Linked DNA regions of Homo sapiens: region 2 is linked to region 1. Evidence: fine-mapped QTL for protein levels in blood plasma. A gene starts in region 1. The other region holds a variant in brackets. All regions are shown on one strand. Distances are between the middles of the regions. Region 1 holds the start of SPINK6 (serine peptidase inhibitor Kazal type 6). Region 2 has its middle 16 kb from the start of SPINK6.

The links. A credible set is the group of variants that fine-mapping cannot tell apart. PIP is the posterior inclusion probability: the model's chance that the variant is causal. The UK Biobank Pharma Proteomics Project read protein levels with antibody pairs (Olink). The fine-mapping took linkage between variants from a reference panel, not from the people measured, so its PIPs are less certain.
Region 2: its variant is the best candidate, but not a certain one, in a credible set for the plasma level of the SPINK6 protein (UK Biobank, PIP 0.89).

What each region holds. Positions count from the first base shown.
Region 1 is chr5:148,201,962-148,204,890 of GRCh38, forward strand. It overlaps SPINK6 (serine peptidase inhibitor Kazal type 6), which reads left to right and starts at 1,081. Exons shown (of 4, transcript NM_205841.4): 1 at 1,081-1,193. The coding sequence starts at 1,136.
Region 2 is chr5:148,185,355-148,188,283 of GRCh38, forward strand. No RefSeq gene overlaps it. Among named protein-coding and RNA genes, the nearest start is that of SPINK6, 16 kb to the right of the region's middle. The variant A/G (reference allele first, on the strand shown) is at 1,207.

The DNA of each region.
Region 1 (2,929 bases):
CCATTCTTTTTTGTTGCTGTTTCCTGAAAGAAGGTTGTGGCATCGCACTCTTTGATCTATCTTGCAATTAAATTGGCCATGAAAGATAATGTGATTCATCTAACTTTTATATGAAAAGTAAAAGGAAATATATTGCTCATTTCAAAAATTCAATTCAGGCCAGGCACAGTGGTTCACGCCTATAATCCCAGCACTTTGGAAGGCCGAGGCAGGCGGATCATGAGGTCAGGAGTTTGAGACCAGCCTGGCCAACATGGTGAAACCCCGTCTCTACTAAGAATACAAAAATTAGCCAGGCATGGTGGCAGGCACCTGTAGTCCCAGCTACTCGGGAGGCTGAGGCAGGAGAATCGCTTGAACCCGGGAGGCAGAGACTGCAGTAAGCTAAGATTGCACCACTGCACTCCAGCCTGGGCAACAGAGAAAGACTCCATCTCAAAAAAAAAAAAAAAAAAGAAAGAAAAAAAAAAAAGAAAATTAAATTCAGTAACTTTAAAAAACAAATTTTTGTTACAAATTAAAGAAAATAATTGACTTCCCTATTTATTTTGACTCAAAACTGGACAACCACTGGCATTTGACTGCTATAATGATTTAAAAATTAATAAGCTGATTCCTGCTCAGAAAATGCTTCTTCTAATGCAGTTCTAGCTACAGTGTGGAATATCTGTCTCCTTTAGGTACACCTTGGATGATCTGGACTCTAAAAATCCAAGTTACACCCAAGATTCCATTATCCTGTGGTTACTCACTTGGACCACAGACATGTAGGACCTGTCTGAAAGAAATATAAGAATCAAGTGGAAGTCAACCAGTGAATCATCCCTATAATGTAGTGAAACTTTAGAAAGAAGAGCCGGGAGGATGTATTGGTTGTTAGGAAAATGTAGGCTACCAGTAGAAAATGACATTCTCTATTAATAAGATCTGAGGTGCGACACACATAATTGTCCCAATTTTTAAGATTGATGGGGAGCATGAAGCATTTTTTTAATGTGTTGGCAGGCCCCATTAAATGCATAAACTGCATAGGACTCATGTGGTCTGAATGTATTTTAGGGCTTTCTGGGAATTGTCTTGACAGAGAACCTCAGCTGGACAAAGCAGCCTTGATCTGAGTGAGCTAACTGACACAATGAAACTGTCAGGCATGTTTCTGCTCCTCTCTCTGGCTCTTTTCTGCTTTTTAACAGGTAAGTTTTTTCTTAAAATTAAGATCCCATATTTATACTGAACTGGATATGATGAGTAGTTGTTTATCATATTTTAAATCCTAATGATTTTGATGTAAAAGACCAATTCTGAGAGATTATCATAATGATGATAATGATTGTGATGACGACAATGGTTATGGTAATAATTATTAAAATTACTGTGATTTGTTGAGCATATACTATATTCTAGGCATGTACGAAGGGATTTTATGTATTGTCTCTGAGACTCATAATAAGGTATTTCTATCTCTGTTCTTCATATAAGAAACTGTGGAACAGAGAAATTGAGAAAATCAGCAAAAGACTTGCAACTAGTAGTTAGAATCTGGAATTTGAATCAGATTCTCTTGCCATCACATTTAATGTTTGTTCCATAAAACTAGATTGGAGGATGGATAATTGCATTAAATATTGGTTTTGCTTTCCAGAACAAAGAAATATTTTCCTCCCCTTAGTTATTATTACAAAGACATTCAAATAATTAAATTAAGACAATGGGGAAATTGGAAACTCAATGAGAAAAATCTTTGAAAATATGTAATTGAAACTTAGAATGCAGAAACATATGTTTCTGGTGAGCTAAATAATCTTAGAGAAGGAGAATATCTTTGGACACTTTAGTGAGGTTCAAAGCACAATCATACTTCAAGGTTATGTTTTTTAAGACAGAACCATCGGAATGAGCAGGTCCATCATAAGCTATTTTCTTCCTTATTATTCTACTCTTTCACGTTGTAGGGCACAAAGCAAATGCTAGTTTTTAGACCTAAGACCTAGTTTCATCTCTTCTATTAATGGCCTGTGTCACTTAAAGAAATAACATAATTTTCTGAGATATTTTGTCATTTGTAAAATAATAGAAATAAAACTAAGCCCTGGGACCTTCCATATCTTATGTATCATTTTGTGTGACAGTAGCAGATGAATTTTACTACTATGCAAGATTTTAAATGGATGTACAAGTAAAAAAAAAATCAATGAGATTTAGCTGATAGAGAAGCCAGTGTTCACTGTAGCTGGTCATAATTACAAAAACAAATACACTTAGAAATACAAAAAAAATGGGTAAAGGATTCCTGTGATATTATGGAGTAAGCTTGACTACTAAAGCCAAATAACCTTAATGGGTAGTTCAATCAGTTGCTGAGATGGCAGAAAAATATATATCTGACTATGTAAAGTTTAGCTGCAAAGATAGTCTCAGAAATCAATTGTTATTTCCTTTTCTTCTCTTTACAAAGGTGAATTGATCTTTAACAGGATCTGGTTGACTAATACAGTTTACCAAAGCATGGATGCTTCACAGACATACTAGATAGTATTTGGGAGGCCATAATGCCTAAGGGCCTTAATGCTGAAACAGAGTAAAGTGAATTTTAGCCCTGGCACTTTCATTTTATAGCTTTGTGAACTCTCTGATGTTTATTTCACTTATATATAAAATAAACATATAAAGGACTATCTCTGTGTGGAGAATTAAATGAGAAAAAGGCATGTACAATGCTTAACATAGTGGATGGGGTATAGTGCATGTTTAACAAATGTCTATTAACATTATTGCCATAATAAAGTTTAATAAAAAGAGTACTAAATTGGACTCCGTCATTGTGAATATTAATCCTGTTTTTGCCTTGCCAATTCCTACGTATGAGACATTAGGCAAATCTCTCCTCTTTTGATGACAGATTTGTACAGTGGAGACTTACTGAAAATTC
Region 2 (2,929 bases), 17 kb before region 1:
TCAAAAGAGTGTGTAGAACAGGCTTAAAAACAGAAACATTTCAATGGAGCCAAATAGGAAGCTGAGAATCAAAAGGTCAGGAGAGGGAAAGGATAATCTCTTTAGTAGATAGGGCTGGAAAAACCGGATTTCCTCATGAAAAGAATAAGGTTGAACCCTTATCTTAGACCATACACAAAAATCAAACAAAAATGGGTATATTCAAGATTTTCCACATTTTGTGATCTAATAGACATCCATACTATTTGTGTAAGACCTTTGAAATCAGGCTTCGGCAAACAATGATTTATGATTTCTTCTTACTTAAAAATATTTCTGGTTCAGTGTACCTTATATGAAATATTTGGGATGAGAAGTGTTTGGGAATTTGGGTTTAGTTTTTTGGATTTGGGAATATTTTCAGAAAACCCAGTGGTTGAGCATCCTTAATCCAAAAATCTGTGATCTGAAATGCTCCAATGAGCATTTTCTTTTGAGCTCCATGTTGGGGCTCAAAAAGCTCCAGATTTTAGATCATTTTGCATTTCAGATTTTTCATATTATGCACGCTCAACCTGTACTAAAGAAGATTATGCCATTTTAATGACTGGATAATATAGACATATAAACCTAATATAACTCTGAGGTGAAGTATATCCCTTCCAATGTCACATTCATTAAGTAAAGAGACATGGAAGAGATGCAGATTCAGTAGAGATCATAAGAAATTTAGTTTTGGATATAATGAATTTTAGGAAAAACTGGGACCATAAAACGAAAAATGTATATACCTTAGAATAATGAAATGACCCTTCTTAACTTTTCTTTTTGAGCAAATTCCTGTATGACTACAAGTAATAATAAAAGAATATGTGTGTTGTAGTGGTGGTGGTGGGGGCCTTGCTCAGTTTCTTCAGTTGGCTGAACATTTTCTGGCAATGAGAAAAAGGGACACATAAGACTATTAAGAAAATATAAATATGTCAAAGGTATACTTTTTTGCATAATAATAACTTAGCTTCTATGATTACTCAATCTCCTCCTTCGTCAGTGTTCCAAGGGAAACTATGACTTGTTAGCATTATGACTAAGTGTTAGGAGAGGAAATGCCCATATTGCAAAGTTGCATCCTAAGCAGTCAAGCAGAAGTTTGTGGCTTTCTTTCTGTGAAACTGACTCTTACAGAATGGCCCTTGACTAAGGGGAGAAGTCATTACACTCTTTCCC[A/G]GGACTCTCTACTTCTCCTACCTAAGACATTTATAATTATATGGTTAAGTGACTACTTCTTTTGTCTTCAACATAAGAATGTAAATTCTAGGCGAGCTGATATTGTGTCAGTTGGGTGCTTTTGGACTGATTCTAGGAAATAGTACTGTCTAATATCTATATTAGCTATAGGTATATTATCTATATCTAATATCATGAGCCAGATATTGCACAATAAGAGGAATCAGCATTCTGATCCAGTTCTTCAGCTCACTTTCTGTACAACTTGGGAGAATTCATTTAATCTTGCTAAGCATTGGTTTACTCGTGGGTAAAATAAGCTTGTACCTAATAAGCACCTCACAGAATTGTGATATTCAAAATGAGATAGCACAGTAAATGCACTTTTTAAAGTGGCATACTCATGTAAAGAAGTTGAGGAATAGCTTATTTTATAGAGAAAAAGATTTTAAAAATCAGTTTTTCTACTTTGCTTACTTTTCCTCAAGTATTCTTGTGTTCTGCAATATGATCTGAGGTTTGAGTTACAACTCTTGTCTGAGATATTAAAGCTCAAATCTTTAGCCTGTGACAAGTAGAGCACTGAATCTGCTTTTTAAAAACTTTAATAGTAAAATGGCATAATTCAAACAGCAATCATTACAATAAACTTCGTACTATAATGTCTCCTTGTACAAGAAGATGAAAAGGTATTAAAAACCACATTACAAAAACCAATTTAAAAATTAAAAAAACATACAAAATATGTGAAAAATATAACAATTAAATGAAAAAAGTGAAAGTTGTCAATATTAATAGGAAGTAAAGCTGAATACAAACCAAAGAACATTAAATTTATTTCCTTTAGCATCCTCATTCTCAGATAAGAAAGCTTCCTTTGTGACTGAGAATATAGAAGCAATTCCAAAAGATCTACAACAGGTTCCCACCAGCACATCAGCATCCATACTGTACTCTTCTCTGTTACTGTGGAAGAGGTCTCCATGTCCCTACCAAAGACTAACCCTGAACATTTTCTTTTATTGAAAGAAGGAAGATCTGAAATCGATAATCTCAAGTTACATTGTGAGAAACTGGAAAAAATGAGGAAATCTTAACAAGATAAGCATAAAAAAGAAATCATAAATCACAAAGGGGGAAAACAATTAAATAGAAAACAGAAAAGCAGTAGAAACAGATCAATGAAACCAAAAGGTAGTTCTTTGAGATTGATAAAACTGATAAACGTGAAGTGACCAATCAGAAAAAAAAAGACAGAAGACACAAATCACCAATAAGAATGACAGAGGTAACAACTCTAGAGTTCTTATATAAATTAAAATAATAATAAGGAAACATTATGAAAAAAATTATATCAACTATTTTGTTAATTTAGTTGAAGTGGAAGAATTCATTTAAAGACATAAACTACCAAAATTCACTCAAGAAGGAATTAATTTATATAGTCCTACATCTCTTAAATTAATTGAATTTCTAGATAAAAATCTCTGATAAGAAACTCATTGGCTCTGGTGCCATCACTGGTTAATTCTACCAAAAATTTAAATAAAAAAATACTGATTCTATACACATTCACATATAATATTAACGAAAAGAGAACACTTACTAAATTATTCTATGAAGTTGCCATTAACCTACTAACAAATAAAAAAAGACATTAAAAGAATAAATAAGAAAAGCAACTACTGCAGATAAATGTCCCTCATGAACAGAGAGGAATGTC